Homo sapiens: one gene and its partner. The protein of the gene in region 1 interacts with the protein of each later gene in a pairwise test. Each region holds a gene or a part of one and is shown on either strand. Other genes may lie near its edges. The genes, in order: CAP2 and DSCAM.

The links.
Region 2: the proteins of CAP2 (region 1) and DSCAM interact in a two-hybrid assay, tested with the Homo sapiens proteins (one large-scale study listed by BioGRID and IntAct).

Annotation. Positions count from the first base shown.
Region 1 is NC_000006.12:17,396,281-17,400,101, reverse strand, and holds part of CAP2 (adenylyl cyclase-associated protein 2), read right to left. Parts: intron 1-3,821. UniProt on the Homo sapiens protein: Involved in the regulation of actin polymerization.
Region 2 is NC_000021.9:40,840,641-40,844,461, reverse strand, and holds part of DSCAM (cell adhesion molecule DSCAM isoform CHD2-42 precursor), read left to right. Parts: intron 1-3,821. UniProt on the Homo sapiens protein: Cell adhesion molecule that plays a role in neuronal self-avoidance. Promotes repulsion between specific neuronal processes of either the same cell or the same subtype of cells.

The DNA of each region.
Region 1 (3,821 bases):
GGCACGTGCCACCATGCCCAGCTAATTTTTTTTTTTTGTATTTTTAATAGAGATGGGGTTTCACCGTGTTAGCCAGCATGGTCTCAATCTCCTGACCTTGTGATCACCCGCCTTGGCCTCCCAAAGTGCTGGGATTAGAGGCGTGAGCCACCATGCCCGGCCACTACAGGTCTGTCTTTGGTGTCTCCAGCATCTAACTTCCCCAGGAACCATCTTCCTCTTCAGAACTGCCATTTAGGTTACCTCCCTTCTATGTTCAGCCTCTTGGAACCCTCCTTCAGCCTCTCAGAATACCCCTTCCCATCAAAACAAAAGAGATTTTAGATCAGACTTCTATATTGCAGAATGGCCTTTACATTCTGAAAAGCTGAGGGCTAACAGGAACATCAAAGGTTATTTACTTCCTCCATGTATCAGGTAAATGTGAAATTTTAAGAATTAGGGGCTAGTGCACCTTCTGCAGGTGGCTAAGTGTTCAATGAGAAGCCAGGATTATTAGATGCCTAATTAACTAGACAGGGCAGATGAAGACCCCATTCATAATAGTCATAATTTCTTCTTCTGGTTTCAGACAATGTCCTATGTCCCTTTCTGTATAGGGCTGTATACTGAAAGGGAAACAATCCCTTCACATAATTTCTCAGTGAAAGAAGCCATTATTTTCCTAAAGTGGGAAAAGTGTCTACTAAAGACAGAAACAAAACAAGATGGAATTCCCCTGGATATAAAAGCTCATGTAGGCCGGGCGTGGTGGCTCATCCCTATAATCCCAGCACTTTGGGAGACCTAGGCAGGTGCATTACCTGAGGTCAGGAGTTCAAGACCAGCCTGGCCAACATGACAAAACCCTGTCTCTACTAAAAGTATAAAAATTAGCTGGGTGGGGTGGCAAGCGCCTGTAATCCCAGCACTGGGAAGGCTGAGGCACGAGAATCACTTGAACCTGGGAGGCGGAGGTTGCAGCGAGCCGAGATGGTGCCACTGCACTCCAGCCTGGGTGACAAAGCGAGACTGTCTCAAAAACAAACAAACAAAGCTCATGTAGCAAAAGGACAAATATTGTATAAGGTACTTAGAATAGGCACATTCAGGGACAGAAAGTAGAATGGTGGTTGCCATGGATTGTGGAAGAGGAGAATCCAGAGTTATATTTAGTGGGTACAAAGTTTCAGTTTCAGATGATGAAAAAGTTCTGGAGATGGACAATAATAATGGTTGCACAACAGTGAGAATGAGCTTAATGCCACTGAATAGTATGCTTAAAAATGTTTAAAATCGGACCGGGCACGGTGGCTCACGCATGTAATTCCAGCACTTTGGGAGGCTGAGGTGGGCAGATCATGAGGTCAGGAGATTGAGACCATCCTGGCTAACACGGTGAAATCCCGTCTCTACTAAAAATACAAAAAATTAGCCGGGCGTGGTGGTGGGCACCTGTAGTCCCAGCTACTTGGGAGGCTGAGGCAGGAGAATGGCCTGAACCCAGGAGGCAGAGCTTGCAGTGAGAGGAGATCGTGCCACTGCACTCCAGCCTGGGCGACAGAGCAAGACTCTGTCTCAAAAAAAAAAAAAAGTTTAAAATCGTAAATTTTATATATATCTTAAAATAGTAAAAGTAATTTTAAAATTCCTCATAATGGTTTGTTCTGACTTTAAGGTGCTTTCCTCCTTCTAAGTTCAAGGAGAAATATCCTGAATGAATGGCAAAACTCACTGCCTAACTCAACGACAGATCTAGATCTGCCCAAGGCTCATTGTTATCAGACTTACCTAACTAAATCACATCGGAAATACTAGACCACTCCGCAGGATATACAATACGAGGCAACTTTTAATGAGGTTTAGTAACTATTCATGTACTTTGATTAAAGTAATGTTCCTTTGATGTAATAATAAAGTTGTCCTCCCTCTCATCCTAAACCCAGGTGATATAAGGAGATGAAGATGTCCGTGAGTGACCGGGTTAAAAGGCTCTGCTGTGAAATTGAGTTGTGAAATTTTAGATTTTCCACACTTCTTAAAACGTTGGGAAATACTTTTACAACTAGAATGTAAATAGGATGAGAAGTCAGAATGTCAGATCTAATCATTTTATCTTGGTTTGGGGAAATGAGTAAGTGGTTACATGCCATCAATGTGTAAGTCAAAGGAGAATCAGGTTTTCTTTTTTTTTTTTTCCCATTAAAATACATGGCACATTCACAGTGAAGAACTCTTGCACATGTGTGCCAAGACACATGGAAAAAAAGTCTTCAAAGCAGCATTCTTTGTAATAGCAAAACATGGGAACCAACCCAAATGCCTGTCAACAAGAATGGTGAAATAAATCATGGAATATTTGCCAAGAAATATTACATACCTACATGCAACAACGTGGGTAATTCTTTTTTTTTTTTTTTTTTTTTTTGATATGGAGTCTCGCTCTGTCGCCCAGGCTGGAGTGCAGTGGCGCGATCTCGGCTCACTGCAAGCCCCGCCTCCCGGGTTCACGCCATTCTCCTGCCTCGGCCTCCCGAGTAGCTGGCACTATAGGTGCCCGCCACCACGCCCGGCTAATTTTTTGTATTTTTTAGTAGAGATGGGGTTTCACCACGTTAGCCAGGATGGTCTCGATCTCCTGACCTCGTGATGCGCCCGCCTCGGCCTCCCAAAATGTTGGGATTACAGGCGTGAGCCACCACGCCCAGCCCAATGTGGGTAATTCTTAATGACCTAATGTTGAATTTTAAGAATGCAAGATTAGGCTGGGTGCGGTGGCTCAGGCCTGTAATCCCAGTACTTTGGGAGGCCGAGAACGGCAGATTACCTGAGGTCAGGAGTTTGAGACCAGCCTGGGCAACATGGTGAAACCCCTTCTCTACTAAAAATGCAAAAATTAGCCAGGCATGGTGGCCCGCGTCTGTAATCCCAGCTACTCAGGAGGCTGAGGCGGGAGCATCTCTTGAACCTGAGAGGCGGAGGTTGTAGTGAGCTGAGACTGTGCCACTCCATTCCAGCCTGGGCGACAGAGAGAGACTCCATCTCAAAAGAGAATGCGAGATTATAAATACCTTTTTTCATAAACCAAAAAAACAAACCTAAACACTATTGTTTTGGAATACATACACATGTGATAAAACTGTTTTACAATAAACCAGGGAATGATTAACACAAAATTCAGGGTTGGGAGGGACATGAGAGCAGGCACAGAGGAAAAACACAAAGATGCAACTGGATACTAACAATCTAGTACTTTTTCCCCTAGTTTTCTGTTTATTTTCTTTAACAATTTTATTGAGATGTAATTCACATACCACACAATTCACCCATTAAAGGTGTACAACTCAATGGTTTTTAGTATATTCACAGATACGTGCGACTATCACTATAGTCGATTAGAGGATATTTTCATGTTTCACCTCAAAAAGAAACCCTGTGACCTTTATCTATCACTTCCCTACTCAACCCACCTCCAGCCCCTTCAGCCCTAAGCAACAAAAAATCTACTTTCTAGCTGTATACATTTCCTTGGTCTGGACATTTTCAAATGAATAGATCATACAGTACGTGATATTTTGACTGGCTTCTTTCACTTAGCATAATGTTTTCAAGATTCATCGATGTTGTAGCATGTATCAGTACTCCACTCTTTTTTATGGCCAAATAATATCTCGCTGTATGGATATACCACCTTTTATTTATCCACTCATCAACTGATAGTCATTTGGTTTGTTTCCACCTCTTGGTTATTATAAATGGTGTTGCTGTCAACATCTGTGTACAGGTTTTTTTGTGAGCATATGTTTTAATTTCTCTTGGACATATATTTACAATGGAATTGC
Region 2 (3,821 bases), on another chromosome or scaffold:
ATTGCTGTATTACGTATTCTGATCCAATCTAGCAGAAGGCTATGGAACTGTCTTGTATAAAAATGCCCCTCTCTTTATATGATCAAGGATGAAAACATTAAAAGCCTGCTGTAAAGCTTTAGGATCTTTGAAGGGGGGAGGGGAAATCAGCTTTAAACAGTTTTCTAAGGTATGGTGTTCATTACATACTGGGGAAAGGATCATAAAATATATAGACATGTTGAAATAAAATAAGAATCCAGTTTGGAACTATGCCTGTTTGTAAGACCATATTTCAAAAATATAAGAGTAAATGGTTTCTACCTATCTGAATTAAACTTTAAAAAATTGAGAATATTTTTGTCAACAACTGTCATATTTTGTTATACCTCAACTTTGAAAAATTTCTGAATGTGTGTGATAAAAGATTGATGAATTCTAATACCTAAACTGATTATTGCTAGGCCTCAAGCATCAAAATGCCTGACATGATAACTTTTTTTTTTCATTTGTAAAAGATTATGTAGTTTAATATTTGGGGCTATTAAAATAAGCCCACAATACATCTGCATTTTAACAGTAGACAACAATATTTTTCTTATTGATGTATCAGAAGTACAGTTATTTCTTAATAAAAGTATGGTTGCTAGACAGGCTGCAGGCAGTATTTTTGAAAAAAAAAAAAAAAAAAAGAAGAAGTCAGTGACCAGGCCCTTCATAGGTTAAACCCTTAAATGAATGACCTCACCTGATGAGGTGCAGTATCGTGTTTTAAAGCAGTCAATTTGTTCTGCAATGTTCTGGAAATACACGCGAGCTTCTGTTACAGTGCAAGGAGCCAAGGTACACGTATGTGCAGACACTCACCCACACACGTCCCTCGGTGTCTTCTCAGCAAAGCTTCCTACTGCATTGTGTTTCATTACCATTTCTCCTGGTTTTAACCCCAGAGCACATTCTAGTTTAAAATTATTGCTAAAAGAAGAGCCAGGCCTTCAGACAAACAGAATGATGAAGAATTAGATTTATTATATGTAATATAGTTTTGCTAGTATCCTGGCATCTCTGTTTTTACACACACACACACACACACACACACACACACACACACACATGCATGCATTCCTGACATCATCTTTTCCTGAGCTGTGGGATTTTCAGTTCTACTGCATCCGCTTTCATGGGGCCTGAGGGTCATGGAGATTAGAGACGGTGGGGTGCTGGGAGTAAGAAGGTGCTCATTAAAGAGAAGATGAGTATGCAGCACCTTTGAGCTTCATCCATTCACTTGATAGGAAATTACAGAGCACACGCTTGCTATTTTATTTAATTAGAAGCAGACCTTTGTAAATACAAATGCACCTTAAGGACTTCAAAGGTGATTTTTATTTAATTCACATAAATGTATGTAAGGAAGAAATGTTATCAGGTGAACAATTTCAGGGCTGCCTCCACTTCCCTTTCTCCCCCATCTTTATTAAACAGATTAAAAAGCTATCCATAATCTCAGGGTTCACCTAAATTCCGAGGCCTTTTAACTTAAGCTGCATGCCCCTCCAAGATGCCCTCTGTAGGAAAACAAAATGCCACGCAGACCTTCAATAAATGCCAGTGGATCGTTCTCCACTTTTTGACTCTCTCCTTTGTCATTTTGGTGTGACCACGGTTTGCTGCCTCGGGGGATCAGTGAGTCACGGGGGGCAGAACCAGCGCAATACAGCATTCTGGTAGGGGAACTAATTTTGACTAAAATATTTGCCAATTCTAATCCCCAATTCCTGGACCTCCGGGTAGCTGGCAAGGTATTTTATGTTAGATGTGTCTGGAGTAAGGTGCACGGAGTATTTCGACAAGAGACTCAATTCAATGCGTATTAAAACTTGATTGAGAGAGGGAGAGAGAGAGGTCATTTTATAAAGAAAGACCTGTGAACACTGTAGATTGGAAATTTATGTTTGCAAAATAAAAGGATGGGTTTATCAAGTGGATGCATTTACAAAATGTGGCATCCAGGTTTCGTAAAATTAGCTGAATTCTACGGGTAAGATTATGAATGTGGCTCATAAATAATTAATAGGTAGTGAAAAAGAATGTATTTTGCATTAGGCAGTGCATTCAATAGTATTTCGGAAATGAGCACTTCGATTTCCTCGGTTTCCATGCGTGGCCCACCTCTCCAGAGCAGGGCAGGCACCCAGGGGTGTGCCCACACAAACAAGCGCGTGTGGGCATTTTCTTGGCTGCTGCGCTGAAGTGCACGCTGGGCCTTGGTGCCCGCACCCTCAGCCTGGGAGATAGGGAGGTGGTGCTACCTGCAGGCCGATTGTGTCCCCGCCATAGGACACTAGTGGGCGGCAAACCTCACAAGACTCTTGCAGCCAGCCTTCAGCAGAGCCAGCAAACCCAGCCGCCACCGAGGGAGGACTGCTCCATGCAGATGGTCAGGGGCTTTCTTCTGAAGACGCCTCCCCCACGATCTCTCAAGTTCACTGCGCCCAAACTCCGGCGTCGTAGAGTTCGTCTAACAGGAACCGGGCAAAGGCAACCGCAGGTCAGGCGAGGTCCAGCAGCCTTTGTTTTCAACTGTACAGCGGAGGACCGTATTCACAGCAATATCTAGAAACCTAGAAGGTGCCCAGAAAGGAAACACAGGTGTTGCAGCGGGTAGCGGGCCCGCAGAAGGGTGCATTTGCACCCCCTTTCCAAAGCCGCGAGGGAACCCCGGCGTGGCGCGCGCCTCGGAGGTGGCAGCTCCGGGAGCAGCTCCGCGCCTGATTGGCTGACCTTCCAATGTCATTCCAGGAGCCGCCGCTTCTCCTGCTGATGGTGACAGGGGTGATGCTGACGTGCCCGCTCCTCCGCAGTCCATCAATCTCCGCAGGCAAGGCTCCGGGACCGGGAGCCCCCTTCCCTCTCCCCCAGGCCCACTGGAAAACACCTGTTCCCCTGGACTGGGGGGTTAACTCTTCAAGTTCCAAAGACCTGGGCACAAAAATGCTCATCTTATCTCTCCGCGCCCCTCCCCCCAACTATATTTATGTTCTTTTCTTCAATGTTGTGAAAATGCCAGAAAATTCAAAGTTGCATTTCCCTTGCCGAATCTATGGGTTAAGATAAGGCAGTGGGAATGGAAGATTCCAGCAGCCCCACGGAGTATCCACTATGTCGTTCTGAATTCAAAGGGTGGAGCACACGGATGTTTTCTGCAGGTGACGCAAGGTCTGTCAAGGTGGCAGGAGGGAAGCAGGGACAGGATTTTGGTTCAGAGGTCAGACAGCTTCTGACCAGGACGTTCAGAAGGGTTGGGTTTCACAAATCTGCTCCTGAAAATCAGTTCCCTCCATATTATCCTTTTTCTAAAAATCTTGGCTGTTTCCTTGATGGAGTCTGTGGTAATCGTTACGCCTGCATTTAGGTGATGCTGATTTGGCTAGTGACTGCCTCTCTCACTAGCTAGACAGGAGCCTCCATAGTCTGAAATGCGTGCGAAGCCTGAGCGTGTCCTTAGCACAGAGCAGAGCACATGGTATGGAGTAGTGGAAATAGATGATGTTCCTTACGGAGTGAAAGGAAAAAGTGATAGGCAGAGCCTTTCTCCCCTCCTTAACTCCTGTCCACCTTCCTCCCTCCCGTCCACCTCTCTCTTCTGCCTCTAGCTGATTGGCTCCCCCTCTTAGTTTGCTTTCCTGGACTTGCTCTCCTGGTCCCTATCTTGCATTCTGACTAAACCACTGGACTCTTTTGCTCTACCCACCTTTTTCTGTCGTAGTGACTCAATCACGGTAGAAATGTTTATTTTCCAGAAACGCCTGTGGCTTGGGGCATTTTCTTCTCTTTTCAAA